Linked DNA regions of Homo sapiens. The protein of the gene in region 1 purifies or fractionates together with the protein of each later gene. This does not show direct contact. Each region holds a gene or a part of one and is shown in the gene's direction. Other genes may lie near its edges.

Region 1 (3,500 bases):
TCACTGCAACCTCTTCCTCCTGGGTTCAAGTGATTCTCCTGCCTCAGCCTCCCCAGTAACTGGAACTGCAGGCTTGCGCCACCACACCTGGCTAATTTTTGTATTTTTTTTATTTTTATTTTTTTTAGTAGAGATGGGGTTTCACCATGTTGGCCAGGCTAGTCTCAAACTCCTGGCCTCAAGTGATGTGCCTGTCTTGGCCTCCCAAAGTGCTAGGATTACAGGTGTGAGCCACCATGCCTGGCTAATTTTCATATTAAATTTAATTAATTAATTAATTAATTTATTTATTTATATTTTTTAGTAGAGACTGGGTTTCACCATGTTGGCCAGGCTGGTCTTGAACTCCTGACCTCAAGTGATCCTCCCACCTTGGCCTCCCAAAATACTGGGACTACAGGTGTGAACCACTGCACCCACCTGAAGCTCCTCTCCTTTCCCTGCTCACCCTGTCTCCTTTCAAACATCCTTCAAGCACCTCCTCTCTGCCACGACTGGGGGTCCCGGAGAACACTGGTGAATCAGCCACTAGCCCTGCCTTTGTGGTGTCTTCACCTAATAGAGGAGGCCATTGGTGCCCAAAACAGCCATTTAAGGAAGGTAAAGGTACATGAGATTTTTTCCCATTTGACCTCGAAGGGTACCCAGCCAACCCTTGGTGGATACGAGGTAGAACCCAGGTGCTCTGGCTTCGTTTCTCTTTATTGCTCCTTTTTAACTTTTTGTCTTTTTTCCCCTTTTTGGTGGAGGAGAACAGGGTCTTGCTATGTTGCCAAGGCTGGTCTTGAACTCCTGGGCTCAAGTGATCCTCCTGCCTCTGCCTCCCTAAGTGCTGGGGTTACAAGTGGGAGCCACCATGCTTGGCCCTACTCCCTTCCTCCCTCCCTCCCTCCCTCCCTTCCTTTCTTCCTTCTTTTTCTTCCTTTCCTTTCTTTCCTTTCCTTTTTCTTTTTTCTTTCTTCTTTCTCCCTTCCTTTCTTCCTTCCTTCCTTCCTTCCCCCTTCCTCTCCTCTCCCCTCCCTCCCTCTCTCCCTCCCTGTCTTCCTTCCTACCCTCCCCTCCCCTTCCCTCCCTCCCTTCCTCCTCCCAAAGTGTTGGGATTACAGGGGTGAGCCACTGTGCCCAGCAAAACTCAGAATGTGGATTTCCTAACTCTTGGTGACAAAAGCAACCTGTGGTCAGACACTCAGGCTAGAGTACAGTGGTGTGATTATAGATCACTGCCGCCTTGACCTCCCAGCCTCAAGCACTCATCCCACCTCTGCCTCCTGAGTGGCTGGGATTACAGGCATGCACCACTACACCCAGCTAATTTTAAAATATTTTTGTAGAGACAGGATCTTACTATGTTGCCCAGGCTGGTCTCGACCTCCTGGGCTCAAGAGATCCTCCCATCTCAGCTTCTCAAAGCATTGGGATTACAGGTGTGAACCACTGTGCTTGGCTTTCCTCACCCCCCGCCCTCCATTTTTAGAGACAAGGTCTTGCTCTGTCACCCAGGCTAGAGTGCAGTGGCACAAATCTGACTCACTGCAGCCTCAATCTCCTGTGTTCAAGGAATCCTCTTGCCTCGACCTCTCGAGTAGCTGGGACCACAGGCATGTACCACCACATCTGACTATTTTTTAAAATGTTTTGTAGAGATGGGGTCTCACTATGTTGGCCAGGCTGGTCTTGAGCTCCTGGCCTCAAGCCATCCTCCCGCCTCAGCCTCCCAAAGCACTGGGATGACAGGTGTGAGCCACCGTGCCTGGCCAGATCATCTCTTTAGATGCCAAAAAAGCGTTAGTATGAACAGAAACGAACATTCAATGTAATATCAATAAACTAGAAAAAGAAGTTGCTGGAACTAACAACTAACATTATACAGAAATGAACATTCAATGTAATATAAATAAACTAGAAAAAGAAGTTGCTGGAACTAACAACTAACATTATACTGAGTGGAGAACTTAGAATATGTTTTTGTTTTTGGCCGGGTGCAGTAGCTCACTTCTGTAATCCCAGCACTTTGGGAGGCTGAGGTGGATGGATCACTTGAGGTCAGGAGTTTGAGACCAGCCTGGCCAAAATGGCAAAACCCCGTCTGTACTAAAAATGCAAAACAAACAAACAAACAAAAATTAGCCAGGCATGGTGGTGTGCGCCTGTATTCCCAGCTACTTGGGAGGCTGAGGCAGGAGAATCGTTTGAACCGGGTAGGAGGAGGTTGCAGTGAGCTGAGATCATGCCACTGCACTTCAGCCTGGGTGACAGAATGAGACTCCCTCTCAAAAAAAAAAAAAAAAAAAGGATGTGTTTTTGTTTCTGTTTTTGAGACAGGGTCTCGCTCTGTTGCCCAGGCTGGAGTGCAGTGGCGTGATCACTGCTCACTGCAACCTCCGCCTCCTGGCCTCAAGTGATCCTCCCACCTCAGCCTCTTGAATAGCTGGAACCACAGGCCTGTAACATTACGACTGGCTAATTTTTGTATTTTTTGTAGAGACAGGGTTTTGCCAAATTGCCCAGGCTGGTCTCGAACTTCTGGGCTCAAGCAGTCCTCCCACCTTGGCTTCCCAAAGTGTTGGTATTACAGGGGTGAGCCATCGTGCCTGGCAAAACGTGGAATGTGGATTCTCTAACTCTTGGTGACAAAAGTGACCTGTGGTCAAATACCTCTGGGGAGTCGTTGCATTGAGATGTTGGGGGAACCTGGCTCTAGATGCAGGAATAAGACAAGGGTGCTCCTTATCAGGGTCCATCGATATTATCCTGAAAGTTCTAACTTACTTAGGAAAGTCAAGAAAATAAGTGCGGGCCTATGGTGGCTCACACCTGTCATTCCAGTGCTTTGAGAGGCCAAGAGGGTGGGGAAAGCTTGAGCCCAGGAATTCGAGACTAGGGTGGGTAACATAGTGATACCTCGTCTCTACAAAGAATACAAAAATTAGCCAGGGATGGTGGCACGTGCCTGTAGTCCCAGCTACTCGGGAGGCTGAGGTGGGAGGACTGCTTGAGCCTAAGAGTTCAGAGACTGCAGTGAGCTATGATTGCACCACAGCACTCCAGCCAGGGCAACAGAGCAGAACCTTATCTCTAAAAAGGAAAATAAAAAATAAAAAAAAAAGGGAGAGAGAGATAAAAAGTACAGTATAAATATTGGAAAGCAGACAATTTGCAGGAAAGACCATTTACTTGAAAAATCTGGATGGCAGCTTTGTCCAACAGAACCCTCGGCTTGGCTGGCACAGTGGCTCATGCCTATAATCCCAGCACTTTAGGAGGCTGAGGTCAGAGGATCACTTGAGCGCAGGAGTTCAAGACCAGCCTGGGCAACATAGTAAGACCTTGTCTCTACAAAAAATCATGTATTAGCCTGGCACAGTGGTACACGCCTGTGATCCCTGCTACTTGGGAGGCTGACACAGGTGGACTGCTCAAGCCCAGGAATTCAAGGCTGCAGTGAGCCATGATTGTGCCACTGGGTGACAGAGTGAGACCCTGTCTCAAAAAACAAAAAC
Region 2 (3,352 bases), about 26 Mb from region 1:
AGCAAAGCTTCCTGTTTGGAACACAGAACACCTCACCTTCCAGCCCTGCCGCCCCTGCTGCATCTTCAGCACCTCCCATGTTCAAGCCCATTTTCACGGCTCCACCCAAGAGTGAGAAGGAAGGCCCCACACCGCCTGGCCCTTCAGTCACAGCCACAGCGCCCTCCAGCTCCTCCCTCCCCACGACCACCAGCACCACAGCCCCGACCTTCCAGCCTGTCTTTAGCAGCATGGGGCCACCTGCATCTGTGCCCTTGCCTGCTCCCTTCTTCAAGCAGACAACTACTCCCGCCACTGCTCCCACCACAACTGCCCCGCTCTTCACTGGCCTGGCCAGCGCCACCTCTGCTGTGGCTCCCATCACCTCTGCCAGTCCATCCACAGACTCTGCTTCGAAGCCTGCGTTTGGCTTTGGCATAAACAGTGTGAGCAGCAGCAGTGTGAGTACCACGACCAGCACCGCCACTGCCGCCTCACAGCCTTTCCTCTTCGGGGCGCCCCAGGCCTCTGCTGCCAGCTTCACCCCGGCCATGGGCTCCATATTCCAGTTTGGCAAACCTCCTGCCTTGCCCACAACCACCACAGTCACCACCTTCAGCCAGTCCCTGCACACTGCCGTGCCAACGGCCACCAGCAGCAGCGCTGCCGACTTTAGTGGTTTTGGCAGCACCCTCGCCACCTCCGCCCCGGCCACCAGCAGCCAGCCCACTCTGACGTTCAGTAACACGAGCACCCCCACGTTCAACATTCCCTTTGGCTCAAGCGCCAAGTCCCCGCTCCCATCATATCCGGGAGCCAACCCCCAGCCCGCATTTGGGGCCGCTGAGGGGCAGCCACCGGGGGCCGCCAAGCCGGCCCTTGCCCCCAGCTTTGGCAGCTCTTTCACTTTTGGAAACTCTGCAGCCCCGGCTGCTGCACCCACACCTGCACCTCCGTCCATGATCAAGGTCGTGCCTGCGTACGTGCCTACGCCCATCCATCCTATCTTTGGCGGTGCCACGCACTCGGCGTTTGGGTTGAAAGCCACGGCTTCGGCCTTCGGCGCTCCCGCCAGCTCACAGCCCGCCTTTGGCGGCTCCACTGCTGTCTTCTTCGGTGCAGCCACCAGCTCCGGCTTTGGAGCCACCACCCAGACCGCCAGCAGCGGGAGCAGCAGCTCGGTGTTTGGCAGCACAACACCATCACCCTTCACGTTTGGGGGTTCGGCAGCCCCCGCTGGCAGTGGGAGCTTTGGGATCAATGTGGCCACCCCAGGCTCCAGCACCACCACCGGAGCTTTCAGCTTTGGAGCAGGACAGAGTGGGAGCACAGCCACCTCCACCCCCTTCGCAGGGGGCTTAGGTCAGAACGCCCTGGGCACCACCGGCCAGAGCACACCGTTTGCCTTCAACGTGAGCAGCACAACTGAGAGCAAACCTGTGTTTGGAGGTAAGGAGGGGCGTGGACTTGGGCTACCGGGCCGGACACTGAAAAGCTGTGCCTGCGAAGCCTGTGGTCTCGGGGAGCTTATGCTGTGGCAGTGAAGAGACAGGCACTGAATATAGAACTCAGTGAGATGCCAGGGAACGATACATGTTTTGCTAACGTAGTAATGACTGGAGGAGCCATTGTGGATTTAACTGGTCAAAGGCCTTCTGAGTAGTTAACAATTGTAAGCTGAAGGTTGGGCGCAGTGGCTCACGCTTGTAATCCCAATATTTTGGGAGGCCAAGGAGGGTGCATCACTTGAGGCCAGGAGTTCAAGACTAGCCTGGACAACTTGGCGAAACCCTGTCTCTACTAAAAATACCAAAAAATTAGCCGGGCGTGGTGGTACCCACCTGTAATCCCAGCTACTCAGGAGGCTGAGGCACAAGAATGGTTTGAACCCAGGAGTTGGAGGTTGCAGTGAGCCAAGATCATGCCACTGTACTCCGGCCTGGGTGACAGAGCAAGACTCTGTCTCAAAAAACAAACCGTAAGCTGAATATGGGGGTGGGCACAGCACAAGTGGACATGCCTTTCAGGCCCAGGATGGCGCATGCAAAGGCCCAGAGGCAGAAACATGTTTGGTATGTTGAAGAGCAGAACAAAGACAAGCATGGCAGGAGGGCAGGAGCTAAAGCAGTGGTGTGGAAGGAGGCCAAGAGGCAAGGATTGTTTGTGGCCAGGGTTGGGTGTTTGGGTCTTAAGTGTTCAGGAAAACCATTGCAGAATCAGGCAGAAGGATGCAGTGATGGTTCCTCCCATGTGGAAGATGAATGTAGATCCCATGGCTTCTGTTTGCTTCGTGAAGTAGAGAAAATCTGGGAGAGAGAGGGTCAGGATAAAGTGTATAAAAAAAGGGGTCTTTTGAAATAGTCATTTTGGACAGTGGGGGAAAGGAACATCATATTAAAAAGTGTGATCAGTTTCCAGGCAGTTTGTGGGCTGGAAAATTGTGATTGTGAAGTTAAAGTGAGGCCAGTTAGCATGGCATGTGTTTCCCAGCGACACTGTGGGTGTAGACCTAAGGTCAGCGGACAGCTGGTGCCACCCGGCCATGGAGACCCCAGCAAGCACAGCAGGAGGGGCAGCGGGTCAGTGCCCCGATGCAGCTCAGGGGGTGCAGGAGTGGAGAGCGGGTGAAGTCAGCTGCAGGAGGGGTGGTGCCTACAGGAGATTCGGGAGCCGGAGCAGTTGTGGTGACAGTGTGGCTGCAGGAGTGGTGGCAGGGGTCGGGGAGAGGAGGTCATGGGGGTGGCAGGGTTGAGGGGCTGAGAGGACCATCAGTCAGCCTCACAGGGCGAAGTCACCGTGAGTGGTGATGGGAAGGAAGCCAGTGAGCCAAGGGTCCTCTGTGAATCAGGGAGTGACCTGGCAGTTGACAGGTGACATGAGGACATGGCAGATTAAAGTGATCTGAACTTGAGTTACGGTATTTAGGGAAGGAAGAGAAACAGTGTGGAAGCAGCGTGGGAGCACAGGGAGCTTCCTCTTGTCCGGGCCGGAGGCCAAGCCCTGAGAGCAGCCATCCCTGCAGAGGGGCTGCCAGAGAGGGCCTCGGGCAGGCAGCCAGAGCCAGTCAGGGCAAGGCCGGGGAAGGGAGGGGACCACGGGGCATCACAAAAGACGCGGGACGGACAAACCAGGCTTCAGAGGGGAGGGGACGGTGGCTGGGGGAAAAGGCCTGAACAGAGGAGGTAGCCAACCCAGGTACGCTAGGAGGCGGGGGCCCCAGAGTACTCCCCTCTGCAGCGATGGTCAGGAGGCCCACGAGGTGGCTGCGGGGCAGGGGGGCTTTTTCTCTGCCCTGGCGTGGCCATTAGCGGGTGGGAGAAGCAGGCTGAGCTGGGGCACCAGGCATGAAGACTCGGTTGTCTGGCTCAGCTGC
Region 3 (3,500 bases), on another chromosome or scaffold:
TTAAATGAGAATTGAACCTCTGAACAGGGCTTTTTTCATAGGCACCCATGCAACTGAGTAGCTGCTATTAAGCTTAAACTTTGGCTTTATGATAAAGCCATCTGTGCTCAGAGTCCACATAGTAAAGCTCAGCTCCTCATCGGATGAGAATATTTGATCAATGAATGTAGGAGGACACTGGCACACTTCACACAGTGTTTATGAGAGTATCTATGCCTGCTGCTCACTGTGGAGAGTTCTAGGGAGGGTCTGGAGCAGCTACGGAGGTGGGGCTGGCCTCAGGGTTCATCCTGTGAGCTCAGTGAGGACTCTCAAGGAATAAAAATCACATAGGCAGCATACTTCATGATACAGTTGTCAAGAAATAGTATTATAGAAGACATTAATGCCACAGTAATTTCTACATTTGTGGTAAAGTGTTCTCTATGCTGCTGAGAGACCACATTCATGCCTACCAGTGTCAGTATCACGAGGTACATTGTCTTCCCTTACAGAGGAGGAGGCGGCTAATTTTTGTATTTTTAGTAGAGACAGGGTTTCACCATGTTGGCCAGGCTGGTCTCAAACTCCTGACCTCAGGTGATCTGGCTGCCTCAGCCTGGCAAAGTGCTGGGATTACCGACGTGAGGCACTGCACCCAGCCAGGATAAGAGCATTTAGGACCCACCCTTCACAGATGTGCCGGAAAATTCTCCACATGGTCTGCAAGGGTGAAGAGCTGCTCTGCAAGGGTGAAGAGCTACTCTTCTCTAGCTCCTGTATTGACCACCCACTTAATCTTTCCCTTCTTGAGATAAATGCGATGTCATTAGTGTTGGTTCTTCTGAGATCGTAGGCTCTAAGATAATTGTTTCTTAAAGAAATATGTAAAATTAAATAACAACAGCAAAGGGAAAGCATCTTTAAGAGCAAATGCTACATTTCTTAAAAGTAGGTTTTTAATATCATGTGAAAATCCCCCCACCATTCACCTCTCCCACTGCCATGCTGGATCCCCACACAAAATACCTCTGAGATTGCTGTGAAAATCAGTCAGGAAGTGTGTGTTATTTAACTTTTAATATTGTTAGAATGCACCTTATATATGTATTAACTCTGCAGTGTTCATTTATCAAGCATCTTTCTCATCAAAAGTTATTCTTCATGATTTTCAACAGAATTTTCTTGAGCTTTTTGACCACTTTATTTGCTATGTATGATACAATGTCATGAAATGCTTAAATGTGGCCCTTGTAATCAGTCTTACGTCAGAACAAATAGTGAAAAATTGAAAGCATCCAGAGATGGCTAACTAGCAAGCAGAGAAATAAGAGGCTGAATGGGAATTTTTAAAATGGAAAGTCTGTGTCTGCCATAGTCAAACACTAGATGTCATACCATTTCCTTGTTCTTTTTTGTCATGAGGTTGGATGACACACATTTGCGGAACTCACATATGAATTCTTCACATAAATGGAAGTGTTCCTAAAGTACTCTAAGAGGATAAACATAAACAGCTTCTTTATTTGCTTTGAAAAGAACCATCTAATGGGTACCTAGATTGGACCCAACTGAATCAATTTCTGTAATTCCTTATTTATTTATTTATTTTTTAATTTTTGTTTTTTTGGGTCAGAGTCTCGCTTTGTTGCCCAGGCTGGAGTGCAATGGCGCAATCTCGGCTCACTGCAGCCTCCACCTCCCAGGCTCAAGCGATTCTCCTGCCTCAGCCTGCCAACTAGCTGAGATTACAGGCACGTGCCACCACACCTGGCTAGTTTTTGTGTTTTTAGTAGAGACAGGGTTTCACCATGTTGGCCAGGTTTGTCTCGAACTCCTGACCTCAGGTGATCTGGCTGCCTCAGCCTGGCAAAGTGCTGGGATTACCGATGTGAGGCACTGCACCCAGCCAGGATTATTCAAAACTGCTATGAAATCTGAAGTTTTTACTTCATCTAAGATGAGGACAATATAATATGATGACAGGAGGGGATTTATCTCCTCTTATACCATGAGTTTTAGGGTTGGCTGGTTTTTGAGAAGAGCTCTGAATTCTTGACTTTTCTTATACCATGCTACTTTATTGGTGATAGAGCAAGACTTTGGCCATACAAGAAATGTTATTTCTTTCTCAGTTCAAGTGTAAATCAGCAGGGCTAAGTGGGGGGTAATTTTGCCTCCAAGGGGATATCTGGCAATGCAGAGAGGCATTTTGGTAGTCACAGCTGCAGGGATGCTACTGCCGTCTAGCAAGTAGAGGTCCGGGATGCTGCTAAACATCCTACAGTACACACAACAGCCTCCGCAACGAAGAATTAATCTGGCCTAAAATGTTAACAGTGCCAAGGATGAGAAATTCTGCTGTAAGTAAAGCCAAAGCCTGTGGCTACAGCAAAGCAGCTTAGGTACAGTGTTTTACCTCCTGAACCATGCTCACCAGCTAATTCCTTATCTGCTTATCTTATTACAGGAAATATAAAACATTTTCCCCCTTTTGTATGAAAAATGTGATGTTTCATTTAAAATGTTATAAAAAGTGTTCTGTTGGCCAATTTGGAAGCTCAACTTTTTTTTTTTTTAAGATTTTGTCAATTTACATAAATTCACTAATTCTCTTTGGTAGTAAAAGGTAACAGAGATTATTTTTTATGCTTCCTTTCAGCATCGAAGGCAAAAAAGCCATCTCAGTTTTCTGGGAAAATAACAGTTAAAGCAAAGGAAAAGAGTTATTCTAAACTTGAAATACCATATCAAGCAGAAGTTTTAGATGGGTGAGTTTCTTTTTAAAATAAATTCTATTACTTTTTACTAATCAGTAAATTATATTTTCCTGCTAAATGACCTGCAGAAATACTAGCCACGTTCACATAAACTTGATGGAATTATTTTTTGAAAGAACAGCCCCAACTATAAAAGAGAAAACCTCCTATATTTTGTTTATATTTTACTTTTTTAGAAGAAAAGGGTAAGTGGGATGATAGGATTTGGGCTTAAATGAAGACTTAATGATTCAAAAATCTGATTTTTTAAATATTATTTAAATCATTTGAACCATTTCCTTTCTGACATTTGTTTGTAATATGTAAGTGATTGTGGCCTATTATTAAAGTATTTTGACACTCGAAACAGAATTCTTTATATTCCTTTATAAATTCATAAACACTTCTAGAATTACAACTTTTTATAAATGGGAAGTGACATGTTCATTTTCTATTGTACTTTAACCAATAGTAGTTTAATACTCAACTTGGCAAAGATTCATTTTAGCAAAGCTCCTTGTAATTCAGTGATAAGCATGATTTTTTTCAAAGTAAAGCTTTTTTTGTTGATATGTCTTTGATTCTAATTGTATGATTCATATAATTCATTAGAGAATGGTTGTTTGTATTAATTTCAGTATTTTGCAAGCTAAATTTTGTTTTAAATCATATAGTCAATCACTAAAATATTATAGTTCTAAATCTTTAATACAATCCCTAATGCTAAATGTAAATTATTACTTACAACAGAAGAACTTGGAT
Region 4 (3,500 bases), about 97 Mb from region 1:
GAACCTTACGGCCTGACTCCACCTCTTTTCCCACAGTCGGAGTCTCAGGACCAGGTCTTCCTACGCTGGAGCAGCGGGGAGACAGCCACCATGCACATCCTCGTGGTCCATGCCATGGTGATCCTGCTGACGCTGGGCCCGCCTCGAGGTGAGCCGCCACAGGCCCCGGGAGGGGCAGCTTCGTGCCAGGTGGGCCACAGCCCTGACCACACCCAGCGGCTTCCGCATCCTTGCCTTGCTTCTGGGCGGGAAGCCCCCCAGCCCTTCAACCCTGTGTCCTGGCTTCTCTCCTAAAGAGGAGGCTGCAGTCCGTCCCGCGTGTCTCTGAGCACTTGGTGGACGTGTGGGAGATCCCCACGTGGTGGGACCTCCCAGCCTGTAGAGCCCTGAGCTGGAGGGCCTGGTACAGCCTGGGGTCAGAGTCCTCACTGCCCCAGCCTAACCGTGTAGGCCTGCGGTGCCTGGGAGGCGGCAAACTCGGGATTTCACCGTGTGGAGGTGCGACATGAGGCTGCCAGGCAAGTGGGTCCTCTCCCCGGGGCCCAGGCGAGTGACCCTGAGGACGCTCTGGCCAGCGCAGTGTCTGGAACCCAGCGCCTACCCAGCCGTGCCCTCTGCGGCCGCAGCCTTCCCCTTTACTCCTGGCTGACACCATGAACTGCTCCCACGTTCACCCCGTTGTGTCTGTCAGTGGGGGAAGGGGGCGGAACCCTCATGCTGGGGTTCGGGTGGACGTGGGTGGGTGGTGACCCCTGTTGGGAGGCAGACACAGTCACAGGCGTCGCCCTTGGGAAGGGCAGCCGGAGAAGCTGGCCCTGTGTGGGCCTGGGCCTGTGGGGTTTCCCAGTGGCTTTGCGGAGCCAGAGAGCTGGATGGGACCTGGTCCAGCCAAGCAAAGCCCCGAGGGCAGGGGCTGGATGGGGACACGCACATGTCCCCTTGGCCACGACAAAATGGCAGTGATGCTGCTTGCCTTCCTGCAGCATCTGTGAGGATCAAATGCGTGCACCTACGCAAAGCATCCGCACATAGCAAGTGCTCACCTAGCACAGGAGCCCCGTGCTCCTCCCAAGTCTCAGTTTCCTTCTCGGGAGAGGAGGTGCCTCTAGCCTTGGCACCAGCGGTGCTTGGGGCTGGGCCCCGGTGGGTCTGAAGGCTGCTCACCCGTTGTCCTTCCTGAAGCCGACGACAGCGAGTTCCAGGCGCTGCTGGACATCTGGTTTCCGGAGGAGAAGCCACTGCCCACCGCCTTCCTGGTGGACACATCGGAGGAGGCGCTGCTGCTTCCTGACTGGCTGAAGCTGCGCATGATCCGTTCTGAGGTGCTCCGCCTGGTGGACGCCGGTACGGTCCAGGCTGGGCTTGGGCAGGGGCTGCTGACTCAGGGGTCCCGGGCCCCTTGCCTGCTCCTTGTGGGCCTGGGCAGCCTCCGGCTGTGGCAGAGGAGAAGACTGGCCGGGTAGCCTCAGGGGATCCTGCAGACCATATGTCCTGGCCACAGCAGGCTGTGCTGGACCCTGGGAGGAGACCTAGGGCAGCCTGTGCTGGCCCCGTCCGAGAGGGTCTTACTGTCAGGCTCAGGGGTCTAGAGTGAGAAACAGGTCCTCGATGGAAAAAAGAGAAAGTGGTCTGGGGTTGGAGAGGAGGAGGAGAAGTGGTGGGGCCTCTGGGTGGGTCCCTGAAGGATTTGGGGGTTGGAGCTGCAGCCGGGGACCCCAGCAAGGACTGAGCAAGGGGCCTGGGCCCACGTAGGTCAGTAGGGCTGGTGCCTGCTCACAGTGAGGAGACACTGGGGGCAGCTTGGTGAGTGAGTGGGGCTGGCTCTGGAAACCCATGACTGCCAAGGGGTCTAGGCTGTTGTGTGCCCCCGGAAGCCACCGATGGCTTCGGGGCAAGAGCGCCCTGAGCACTGAGAGAAGATAGTCACAGCAGCCTGCGTGCAGCTTCGGAAGTGTACTGCGCCGTGCCACCATAGGCCCTCTGGAGCGCCCACCCACCCCTGGGGATGGGGCCCACACAGCTGCCATCCAGGGTGCAAGGTGGTCCCGACACGCTGCCCCCTTGTGCGGCCCCAGGTCTCGGGTGGGGTCACCGAGCCCACGTGGCCCAGGGTCTCAGGTGGGGCTGCCGAGTGTGCACTGCCCCAGGTCTCGGGTGGGGCTGCCGAGTGTGCACTGCCCCAGGTCTTGGGTGGGGTCACCGAGCCCACGTGGCCCAGGGTCTCAGGTGGGGCTGCCGAGTGTGCACTGCCCCAGGTCTTGGGTGGGGTCACCGAGCCCACGTGGCCCAGGGTCTCAGGTGGGTGGGGTCACTGCACACAGGCAGCCCCAGGTCTCGGGTGGGGTCCCGAGTGCGCATTGCCCGGGTTTTGGGTGGCGTTACGGAGCGCGTGCACCCTCAGCCCTGCAGGACCTGGAGCCGCAGCAGCTGCTGCTGTTCGTGCAGTCGTTTGGCATCCCCGTGTCCAGCATGAGCAAACTCCTCCAGTTCCTGGACCAGGCAGTGGCCCACGACCCCCAGACTCTGGAGCAGAACATCATGGACAAGAGTAAGATGCCAGGGACCTGCGGAGTGGGTTCACACACGCTGACCGAGCCCCAGCCCGGCCAGGCTTTTGGGGCCTGGGTGCGAGCGGGTGGGTGATCCGAGGTCGGGTGGGTGTGGGTGGCACTCGAGGGCAGGCTTAGACCTGTGGGTTGGTGAGGCTGGCACAGTCAGGAGGGAGCCGAGGCCTGGGCCTGCCCCAACCCTGGGGCCAGGCACCCCCTAGGGCCGTGTTTTGAGCTTGGAGGGAGCTGTTGGGGCCTCAGTGCTGACTGAGCTCACCCAGCTTCTGAAGTCCTTGGGAAGTGCTGGTGACGGTGGGGGCATCTCCAACTCTGGTTTCTGTGGAGAGGGAAGGACCTGCTCCCTGGCCCCTGGCCGCGCCCAGGTGTGACCCTGCTACGGTTTGCAGATTACATGGCCCACCTGGTGGAGGTCCAGCATGAGCGCGGCGCCTCCGGAGGCCAGACTTTCCACTCCTTGCTCACAGCCTCCCTGCCGCCCCGCCGAGGTACTGGGGAGGGGTGGGGCCAGCACAGAGACCCAGCCTGGGGAGGGGTGGGGCCAACACAGAGACCCAGCCTGGGGAGGGGGACGGGGCCTGCACAGCCACACAGGGCAGTGCACACTTGCTGATGCCACCTGAGAGGGGCCCCCACAGAAACTCTCAGCCTGTCTTTGGGCAGCATTTGCCTCTGGCCAGCATGCACGTTCCTGTTCAGAGTCTTGAGATCCCTGTGGACCTGAGCGAGACCTGGGGTCCTTGGGGAACACAGAGCCCAGGTCTGAGCTCTTCCTCCTGGGTGACAGTCCCCGGGCAGGACTCGCCATGGCTTGTACAGTTCCCACCGCTGGAAGCAGGTCAGAAAGTGTCCAGCCACTGACAGTTCTCCTGTCTCTGCAGACAGCACAGAGGCACCCAAACCAAAGAGCAGCCCAGAGCAGCCCATAGGCCA
Region 5 (3,500 bases), on another chromosome or scaffold:
CCTTTTTAAAGTGATGAACAAAAATGAGACAAAATAATATTTGGTTCCTGTCAGGATAAGCCAGGAAAAATTTGTTAAGACAACTTCACTTGTCACCCTTTATGCTACCTGTAATCTTACACTGCTAAGTAACTGGTCATGTTGGTGAAGACTACATCCGTAGTTTCTGTTTTCTGCTTACAGGTATGGATCTCTTCTCCAATTGCACTGAGGAATGTAAAGCTCTGGGCCACTCAGATCGGTGCTGGATGCCTTCTTTTGTCCCTTCTGATGGACGCCAGGCTGCTGATTATCGCAGCAATCTGCATGTTCCTGGCATGGACTCTGTTCCAGACACTGAGGTGTTTGAAACTCCAGAAGCCCAGCCTGGGGCAGAGCGGTCCTTTTCCACCTTTGGCAAAGAGAAGGCCCTTCACAGCACTCTGGAGAGGAAGGAGCTGGATGGACTGCTGACTAATACGCGAGCGCCTTACAAACCACCATATTTGAGTAAGTATTACACAAAGGGCTCTGTTAAAGTGTTCCCTTTGAGGAGATAAAGTTCAACATTCCACTCTTTTTGGTAAAAATGGAGTTCAGGTTTTTTTAAGAAATAAAGATAAAAGTGACTGGATGCTGGCAGCACTTTAGGGCAATATTCTTTATTTAAAATAATAGATTCCTCTAACATTGAGACATTAATAATTGCACTGAGCTCTTTCAAAATATAGGACTATATTCTCCAAATTGATTATTTTATATAATCATTGCAAACAATAAAAATGCTTTGAGATTCCATAATATATTTCCTTTGAGGATCTTGGTAATGAGAAATAGAAATATTTTTCTTTTAGTTAATGGATAAATATTACTGGCAATTCAATATCTTGGTCAAACTACATAAATAATGTTTGATAAAGATAAAACTCATAACAACTCAATCAAAAGATGACTTACATAGCAGATCCATCCTACGTAATGTTTTATTTCATCTACTACAAAAATAACTGTGGAACTTATAAGCTAGAACGAAAGATGAGACAGATTGTAGATATGTCATTTCTTTTATGACTGATGAAATTGAAAAGTAAAAGAGTTTTTAAAAACTTAAAGGAAAAAAACAGAGGAATATTTATTTTAGCCTTTATGAAGTATAACGTGAAAAGCAAAGATTGAATGCATTGAGGTTGTGGCTATTAACCTGGACATAGATAAAGCAAATAGACAAGTGTTATATGCTTAAAGGAATGGTCTTTTATTAGATGCATACATTGTAGTGACAACAATAGGTGGTGTTTTATGAAGGATTGTTTTCAGCTTTTCAAATTACTCAGAACCACAAATACCCCAGCATGATGTACCACTTTAGCACTTCAGAACCAAAAAATCATTTGTTTTGCTTTATTTTTTTAAAGTTATACAAAGAGAGAACAAATACTTAAAGACAGGAAATATTGAGATGTCTAAAATGCAATTTGGATGCTAATGTCTTAAGTTTAACTCACAAATCCACACATGCTAGTGAATTAAAATAGCCTAAAATCAAACTTTAATAAGTGAGGAACATGATGCGATCTTTGCCTCTGAAATTGAATTCTGGATTCAAAATTTTATTTATTATTAAAAGTAAAACTTTTCCAAATTTTAAACAGCATATTTAACTACTGTTTCACTTAAACTAAGAATGTACATTATAGAAATACATTATTAATCATTTCAAGGCAAAAAGTGAAGGGTATATGATTCAGATTAATAAAAATTTGCATTTCTAAATAAATACAAATATTTGCTTTTACCATATAATAACAGGTAAATCTACTTCAAATATAGTGGGAAAATCAACTTGCCCTCTTTTGCTCTTAGTGAGTACTAATCTTGGTGAAATTACACTTACACATAGACCTGGAATTTTTAACATTTACAGATGTCTTTTCTTTACTGACTGGATTTTTTTATTAATAAGACTAATGGAAACAATTTTTATTATTAAAATATTAATGCTGCATATATTTTAATGCAAATTTTTCTATTTCTTAAGAATCTGGTCTTTCATTTAGAAATCTGATTCAGGGATTATGAAATTTATTAACAGTTATGTGTGTTGCTAAAAATCAAAAGAATGCATCTATTATTTCACCAGGAAAATTTTAATTATTTGCTCATTTTATATATATATTCATATATATACACATATATTCATTATATACATATATTCATATATATACACATATATTCATATATATGTGTATATATATGCACTAACACATTCCAACATATATTCATATATATACACATATATATATACATACATATATTCATATATATATGAATATACATATGTTGGAATGAGTTAGTTTTTAATTGTAGTTTTTTTCCCTAATCTGTTTTAGCCAGTTCACACGGCTCAAAATTTAGGGTTTGGGTTGACGTGTGACCTGTGGTGGAAAATTTGCAGAAGAATAGCTATTTTGTTGTTTTCACTTCTGCTCTTCTTAGTTCTTCATACGACTTTAATCATGTCTAGACTGGTTTTTTTTTTTAATTTAACTTTTAGTATTTAATGTCATCTTAGAGTCATCCAATTATATTTAAAATTACACCATGACTCTGACTTAATAATCATAAAAAATTTATAGTTAGTCTGATAATACAAACTCTAAAACAAAACTATTCCTGACCATTTTGCCCCTCAAATTCATATGGTGATAGTTTTTGATACTTGTGTCCTTTTTCATTCAGAATAGAAATAGTGTCATCTTCTAAGTCTAAAGTAAGTCCCTTGCATAATTAAAAAAGCTAAAAATTGACACTACTTGCTTTTAATCAGAATGTTTGAATAATTATTAAAGTTGTAGAGTTTTTTTGCTAAATATGCAGTTTCATAATGAATATAATGTACATTTTGATGTTAGGAAAAATAGCAGTATATTTAGTTATGTTTTTGTAAAGCTCTAAAAAGCCTAATGAGACTGTCACTGTCATTTATACAATAATGACAAGGAAATGACGATATGCTTAAAAATACAAAAGAGATCAATGTCAGTACAAATAACTTTTGATTTCTATACCTCCGATTGCTAAAGTTAAAACTAAAAACTGCAAGAAAACAACTTTTACACAAAAATAGATGGATGCAAACATTAAATAATGTACTTCATGTTCTTAAAAATATGCTTACACTTACATTTCTTTTTATTTTAATGTATTAACAAAAGACCCATGAAGAGTATACATGATGTATTTAATAAAAGGAGACTTTTTAAAAATCAGGAATAATTTTGAACACATCATTCAATACTTGCTGAGTTATTCATGAGCACTTTCTGAGCTTGCTTTCTCTTATTTTTCCTATAATGTTGTAGTTTGCTAAGTTGATATGGAGCAAAGGGATACACTCAAAGATTGAGTAAATAAATTTAAACAGGTAGAACATGGCCATATATTCAGAAATGCCGTATTTAGATTTACCTTAAATGTTAATGAATTTCAGTTTTACTTTACCTTTAATTTTCATTAGCATA
Region 6 (3,500 bases), on another chromosome or scaffold:
TGAAGAAATACAAAATTTAAGAGGTTTTAGGGAATAATACACTGCTGAGAAGATGGTAAGAAGGGCACGCACAGCTGAGTACGGTGGTTCACACTTGTAATCCCAACACTTTGGGAGGCCAAGATGGGAGGAATGCTTGAACCCAGGAGTTTGAGACCAGCCTGGACAATATAGTGAGACCTCATCTCTACTAAAAATTTAAAAAATTAGCCAGGCATGGTGGTGCGTGCCAGTAGTCCCACCTACTTGGGAGGCTGAGGCCGTAGGATCACTTGAAACCAGGAGTTTGAGACCAGCCTGGTCGACATAACAACACTTCTACAACATCTCTACAAAAATTTTAGAAAGTATCCAGGCATGGTGGTGCCCGCCTGTAGTCCTAGCTACTCAGGAGGCTAAGGCAGGAGGATCCCTTGAGCTCAAGAGTTTGAGGTTACAGTGAGTGATGATTGTGCCACTGTGCACTCCAGCCTAGGTGACAGAATGAGACCCTGTCTCTTTAAAAGATGAAAATAAAATGTAGCCAAAATGGTTATTTCTAAGTGGAGGCAGCCATTGTCAACCTGTTTTATGTCTTTGTTACAGGAAATTCCTGTTAATGATGGAATAGAGCTATTGCAGATGGTTCTGAACTTTGATACCAAGGATCCCCTCATCCTGTCCTGCGTCCTTACTAATGTCTCTGCACTCTTTCCATTTGTCACCTACAGACCAGAGTTCCTGCCCCAGGTCTTCTCTAAGGTATAAAGCCCATCTCCTTTGTAAATTTTATTTTGACATTTCTAAGTTAATTTTTATTTATTTTATTTTTTTGGAGACAGGATCTTGCTACATTGCCCAGGCTGGACTCAAATTACTAGTCTCAAGGGATCCTCACACCTCACCCTTCTGAGTAGCTGAGACTACAAGCATGCACAACCATGCCTGGCCTAGGCTAATTATTTTTGTAACTATTTTTAAAATTATGTGAGGCAAACTAATAAACACAGCTATTTATTCATTTATTAAATATCTACTCAGTACTTACTGTGGATCAGGTACCATGCTAGTGCCTCACTCTTTAGGAACACTCTGGGAAGAAAGGCACAAAAACAGTTAATGTTACCTATATGGCATTGCAATGAAGACTTGTATAAAGGAGAGTATTAGAGTGTGCTGTCGGGCAGGGAGGGGATTTATGAGAGGAAGGAACACTTTCCAGGTTTCCAGTTCAGTTGACTAGGTGGGTGATAGAGCCACTCCCTGAGTCAGAATACCAGATCACAAAGGAGAACGGGACTAAAGAAGAGAAAGCATGAGTATTTTGGAATACTGTGTTTGAAGAATATGTAGAACATCTTTATGGAGACATCTCACAATAAATTGGCTATTTGAGGTTGAAGATCTAGACTCTAGAAAGTAATGAGATAAAATTAAAGCATCATCATCATAGTAGTCCCACGACTAAAAGTGAAGTCTTACTGAAGTGATTATGTATGTAGAGTTAGGAGACATGTGAGTCAAGCGAGGAACCTAGTGAATCACCATCATTGGAGGAGTGGAGAAAAAAATGAGAAGCCCCCACAGAAGGAAAAAGAGCCAGAGAAATGAAGAAAATGTTGTGTCACAAGACCAGTAGGACTTCAGAAAAGTGGGCTCATTTGTTGCAAATTATTTGAGTTGGAGAATGCCCAGTGAGTTTCTTGACTACACTCTTGTCTGAGTTTAATTCCATAATAGTGGCCAAGTAAGCAGCCATATTTCATTGGAATGAGGAGTAAATGGGAAATAATGAAATGGAATAGAAGGGATAGACCATACAACTTTTGATAAAAGAAGAGAGAGGCGTTTCCATAGCCAAGTGCTTGGGTGATGGCATGAATTGTTCTGGGATCCTATTGTAAAATGTTTTGATGGTAAAATTGTGACTCCGATGACTCTTGTAGAGGTTATCTGAGAAAATGGACAGTATGAATAAGCTCATGCCCGTAGTCCCAGCTACTCAGAAGGCTAAAGCAGGAGAATCAGTTGAGCCCAGGAATTCAAGTCTAGTCTGGGCAACATAGCAAGATCTCATCTCTAAAACAAATAAACATGAGTGACCTTTTTTCCTCCTCTCCCTTAGCTATTTTCATCTGTCACTTTTGAAACTGTTGAAGAAAGTAAGGTAAGACCATTAATTAAACCAATAGATTCTAACTTCTTGAGTACAAATGTATGAATACCTGATACTCAGTTTATATTTTTATATAAATGGGAGGGGGTAGTAAGGGTGGTAGATTATCATATATGTTGTTTTGCCACTATAGGGCATACAAGAAACATGGATTCTTGGTGGCTATAAATGTTACTCCATTATACTCTTAGGGTTGTGAAAAATCATTGTGAATTTGCCCCTGACTGAGATATTCACATGAGTCTATGCAGCACCTGTATATTATATTAAAAGCAGCTCCGAGTTTGTTGAATGTCTCTTTTCAGGCCCCCAGAACCCGGGCAGTGAGGAATGTGAGGAGGCATGCTTGTTCCTCCATCATCAAGATGTGTCGTGACTACCCCCAGCTTGTGCTGGTAAGCTGCTGGACCCTGGCTGAAGTAGCCAAGTTTGGTTACATTTGTGTGTAAATCCAGCTTTCAGTGTACCTCACATAAAGAAAAAACTAGAAACTATAGCTTTGCATCATATAAGCATCCTTGGCCGGGCATGGTGGCTCACACCTGTAATCCCAACACTTTGGGAGACTGAGGTGGGTAGATCACCTGAGGCCAGGGGTTCGGGACCAGCCTGGACAACATGGTGAAGTCCGGTCTCTACTAAAAGTACAAAAAAATTAGCTGGGCATGGTGGTGCATGCCTGTAATCCCAGCTAGTCAGGAGGCTGAGGCAGGAGAATCACTTGAACTCAGGAGGCGGAGGTTGCAGTGAGCCAAGATCACGCCATTGCTCCAGCCTGGGCAACGAGCGAAACTCCATCTCAAAAATAAATAAATAAACATTCTTGAATTGGTGTTTTCTTAGTATACTTAGTAGTATAGTTAGAAATGTGATGGCAAATGTAATCTCTCTTCAAAATACAAATAGTTCTCTGCCATATAGATTACTAAGTTTACCCCTATAATTCTACAACTCTTTACTATGTGATGATCTTAATTACTACTGCCAAATGATGTGCCTGATCTTGAGAAAAGCAGATGCAAATCACAACCCTTTTTGGGGCATGGGGTTATAAGAAATTTAACATTACTCCAGATTACAAATTATCCAGAAATTTCTTCTCTGAATGCACAGCAGTTATCTCCATATATATATAGATATACATATATATCTATATATATATATAAAACAAGCTGATCTTTTCACAGTTGTAGTATGGGAAAGTGCAGTTATCCAAATACTCAAGACAAGAGCTATCTTCCGCCTAAATTGCCTTGCTTATTTAGGCAAAATAAAGACATATAACAGAATTACCAAATAATAACCTTATAGGCCTGACTTTCCTGGGACTGCTTTGGTTTTCTTC
Region 7 (3,500 bases), on another chromosome or scaffold:
ACTGTGTTAGCCAGGATGGTCTCGATCTCCTGACCTCGTGATCCACCCGCCTCGACCTCCCAAAGTGCTGGGATTACAGGCGTGAGCCACCGCGCCCGGCCAATGGCATTCTTTTTTAAATTAGTAAACCAAACTAGTAAAAACTAAACCCAACTCCTCAATTTTATTTCATCCTTCTCTTTTCAAATAATTACTGAAAACAAAATTTACATTGAAGAAAATTATGTAAACATTTCATCACTTGAAGTTTGAGGTTTTGTTCCTTTTTATTCTAAGGGAAAATAGGAATTAGAGTACTTCTGAGATATTGGTTACTTGGAGGTTTTATTTTCCAGGTTATTTACTGTATTCTTCACAGATGAAGTTTTGCTTATATTATGTCTATTTTATAAGTGAGATTACACAGTAAGAAACTTAAGTGACTCCATTGCAGCCATAAAGCCAGGACTATATATATTTCTAGACACCTTCTTCTGTTGTAGCCCCATGCCCCATAGACATGGAAATCAAGAAATTACATCATTACTTTTGAAATTGGAAGAGTGTCATTCCCAGTGATGTGCTTGGCCTAGGTGTCTCGAAATAATGATGTGTGGCAGAACCATGAAGCAGTTCCTGGAAGAGCAGAAGACACAAAACTCTATGCTCCCACCCATAAGGAGGCAGAATTTCAGGCTCCCCCAGAGCCAATCCAACAAGAAGTGGAACGCAGAGAACCTGAGGAGCATCAGGTGGAAGAGGAGCACAGAAAGGCCCTGGAGGAGGAAGAAATGGAGCAGGTCGGGCAAGCAGAACATCTTGAGGAGGAACACGATCCATCACCAGAGGAGCAGGATCGGGAGTGGAAAGAGCAGCATGAGCAACGAGAAGCAGCCAACCTCCTGGAAGGGCACGCGCGTGCTGAGGTATGAAGTCACCCGCTTCTGGTATGGTGTACTGGGATGGAAAACCTGGCTTTATTTTTACATATTAAGGTAATATATCACAATCTCTAAAATAGAAATGTGAGTGATTCTACTAAACATTATATGCTCATATTTAAGTTTTCTCTTGTAATGTTAATAGCATAGCTATTCGCATACCTCAGAAAGATGATTGGTGATGAGAGAGCACAGCTGTTGTATGTGTGCATTCTTCTTTTTGTCAGTTGTACACAGTCAGAGATTCATTCTCACATCACCTTAATAGAGTAGAACAGGTGAGTACCTGATGGGGCACCTTCCCAGCTTGTACCCAAGTTTTGTCTTGAGCATCTTGAGGCAGAGAAAAATCTCATTTTCTATGATCAGGCGTCCTCCTCTCCCTGTTCATTTATTGTCAGTATGTTGCCTTTTGTATTCACCTTCAAGGTGGTTATTTAATTATCAAAAATCTGATTTTACTACTTGGAGATATTCTACTAGGTGAGCATATCTAAACAGCCTCTGCTCAGGATCCCTTACTGGACACGCCACTTACACGTAAGACTTTTCCCTTTCTTAAAAAAAAATGGCCAGGATTATTATAAATGATGCTTTAAAAGAAAACTCTACCCTTTCTTCTTTTAAACCAACAGTTAGTGCAGCTAGATGCCTTTCTTTTACTGTCTCTAAACTGAGTCTCAATAGTAGGTTACCTGGCCTTTACATGGGTGTGGATCACCTTCTATTTATAACTCTGAAGTTTTATTCGGCCTCAGATTTTCTGAGACTTCAAGCCGCTTGAGGCTTTAGGCTAAGCAGGTGTGAAGACCTCTGTAGTTGCCCTCTTAGGTAGTTGCAAACTTAACCTCAGAAAGCTTCTTCCAGTCTTGTGTCCTTCCCCAATAGGGGAAGTAATTCCCCACCAGCTTTACTTCCCAACCCTCTACCTCTTTCCTTAAGTGAGAATTGTGTGTGCTTTTGTTAGTTGGGGTATGGCAGGGAGGATGGGTAGTAGCTCAATGGGGTACAGACACTTTTTATTGATGCATAATATATGTATATATTTTCAGAGTATGGGCGATATTTTGAAACATTCATATAATGTATAATGATCAAATCTAGATAACCCATCACATCAAACCTAGATAACCCATCACATCAAACATTTATCTCTTTTTTATTTTGGGAGCATTCAAATTCTTCTAGCTGTTTTGAAATATAAGATAGATTATTGTTAATCGTAGTCACCCTACTGAACTACCAAACATTAGGTCTTATTCCTTCTCTCTAACTATATGTTTGTACCATTCATCAGTCTCTCTTCATCCCCCTTCCCAGCTTCTAGTAACCACCAATCCACTCTATCTTATCAATATCGCTTTTTTAAGCTCCTACATGAATGAGAATATGCAATGTATGTCTTTCTGTGCTTGAAGTTTTTCACTTAACATAATGGCCTCCAGTTCCATCCATGTCACTGCGTATGACAAGATTTCATTCTTTTTTATGACTGTGTATATGTACCACATTTTCTTTATCCATTCATCCGTTGATGGATGCTTAGGTTGATTTCATGTTTTAGCCATTGTGAGTAATGCTGCAATAAACCTGAGAGTGCAAGTATCTCTTCAATATAGCAATTTCCTTTCTTTTGGATATGTGCCCAGTAATAGGATAGCTGGATCATATGGTGGTTCTATTTTTAGCTTTTTGAGGAACCTCCATACTGTTTTTCATATTGGCTATACTAATTTACATTCTCACCAACAGCGTACGAGGGTTCCCCTTTCTCCACATCCTCACTAGCGTTTGTTGTTGCCTTTTTGATAAAAGCCATTATAACTGGGGTGAGATAATATCTCAGGGAAGCAGAGTTTTAAGAATTGCTGTATCAGATTTCCCTTTAATCAGAAGGCACCATCTTCTCAGCCATTCTTAGTTTCTTTGAAAAAAAATTGAATATCTGCTTTTCCACTATTACCTGGAATGTGGCTTTTTTTTTTTTTTTTTTTGGCTATGCTTAGCCTGGGATTGGTATATACATTACTAGAGTTAATTAGCATCCCTCGGTCTTTAACTGTTCATGGAAAAAGCCTTAGGCGTAGCATAAGGTCACAGATTGCCCAGTTAATGTGAAGTTACCAAAGTTACCAACTACTTGTTTATATCAGAGCCTTGTGAACATAAATTTTACAGTTTGAAACTGTTATCTTCGGTTGTCCCTTCTGTTCCATTTGAGAAGGGAGCACATTGAAAATCTGCCTTAATAGCAGTAGTTGGAAATATCAGCTGCTAAAAAAGCCAAGGGTGATTCAGAGAAAGTTGGGAAATAGGAGTTTTTGGACTTCATGTATAATCACAGTTCACCTGACAAATAGTCGTTAATAAACCAGCTCTGCCTCCTGAGTTTGTCAGGAGAAACAAATGAAGAGAAAACCCAGAGGAGCTAACCCCTCTTGCTCTGCACCAACTCTTTTTCACCCTAGGTGTACCCTTCAGCCAAGCCAATGATCAAATTCCAATCACCCTATGAGGAACAGTTGGAACAGCAGAGACTGGCAGTGCAGCAGGTGGAGGAGGCCCAGCAGCTGCGGGAAC

What was found.
Region 2: the proteins of TMEM130 (region 1) and POM121 purify together in Homo sapiens (affinity purification with mass spectrometry; one large-scale study listed by BioGRID and IntAct). This does not show direct contact.
Region 3: the proteins of TMEM130 (region 1) and TMEM131 purify together in Homo sapiens (affinity purification with mass spectrometry; one large-scale study listed by BioGRID and IntAct). This does not show direct contact.
Region 4: the proteins of TMEM130 (region 1) and INTS1 purify together in Homo sapiens (affinity purification with mass spectrometry; one large-scale study listed by BioGRID and IntAct). This does not show direct contact.
Region 5: the proteins of TMEM130 (region 1) and PCDH10 purify together in Homo sapiens (affinity purification with mass spectrometry; one large-scale study listed by BioGRID and IntAct). This does not show direct contact.
Region 6: the proteins of TMEM130 (region 1) and XPO5 purify together in Homo sapiens (affinity purification with mass spectrometry; one large-scale study listed by BioGRID and IntAct). This does not show direct contact.
Region 7: the proteins of TMEM130 (region 1) and GOLIM4 purify together in Homo sapiens (affinity purification with mass spectrometry; one large-scale study listed by BioGRID and IntAct). This does not show direct contact.

What each region holds. Positions count from the first base shown.
Region 1 is NC_000007.14:98,856,515-98,860,014, reverse strand, and holds part of TMEM130 (transmembrane protein 130 isoform b precursor), read left to right. Parts: intron 1-3,500.
Region 2 is NC_000007.14:72,942,095-72,945,446, forward strand, and holds part of POM121 (nuclear envelope pore membrane protein POM 121), read left to right. Parts: coding exon 1-1,428; intron 1,429-3,352. UniProt on the Homo sapiens protein: Essential component of the nuclear pore complex (NPC). The repeat-containing domain may be involved in anchoring components of the pore complex to the pore membrane. When overexpressed in cells induces the formation of cytoplasmic annulate lamellae (AL).
Region 3 is NC_000002.12:97,814,449-97,817,948, reverse strand, and holds part of TMEM131 (transmembrane protein 131 precursor), read left to right. Parts: intron 1-2,641; coding exon 2,642-2,750; intron 2,751-3,500.
Region 4 is NC_000007.14:1,480,390-1,483,889, reverse strand, and holds part of INTS1 (integrator complex subunit 1), read left to right. Parts: intron 1-36; coding exon 37-148; coding exon of another isoform or gene 149-189; intron 190-1,182; coding exon 1,183-1,344; intron 1,345-2,401; coding exon 2,402-2,548; intron 2,549-2,956; coding exon 2,957-3,055; intron 3,056-3,448; coding exon 3,449-3,500. UniProt on the Homo sapiens protein: Component of the integrator complex, a multiprotein complex that terminates RNA polymerase II (Pol II) transcription in the promoter-proximal region of genes.
Region 5 is NC_000004.12:133,162,794-133,166,293, forward strand, and holds part of PCDH10 (protocadherin-10 isoform 1 precursor), read left to right. Parts: intron 1-183; coding exon 184-489; intron 490-3,500.
Region 6 is NC_000006.12:43,548,539-43,552,038, reverse strand, and holds part of XPO5 (exportin-5), read left to right. Parts: intron 1-585; coding exon 586-741; intron 742-1,027; exon of another isoform or gene 1,028-1,069; coding exon of another isoform or gene 1,070-1,071; intron 1,072-2,104; coding exon 2,105-2,146; intron 2,147-2,460; coding exon 2,461-2,550; intron 2,551-3,500. UniProt on the Homo sapiens protein: Mediates the nuclear export of proteins bearing a double-stranded RNA binding domain (dsRBD) and double-stranded RNAs (cargos). XPO5 in the nucleus binds cooperatively to the RNA and to the GTPase Ran in its active GTP-bound form.
Region 7 is NC_000003.12:168,029,925-168,033,424, reverse strand, and holds part of GOLIM4 (Golgi integral membrane protein 4), read left to right. Parts: intron 1-572; coding exon 573-905; intron 906-3,388; coding exon 3,389-3,500. UniProt on the Homo sapiens protein: Plays a role in endosome to Golgi protein trafficking; mediates protein transport along the late endosome-bypass pathway from the early endosome to the Golgi.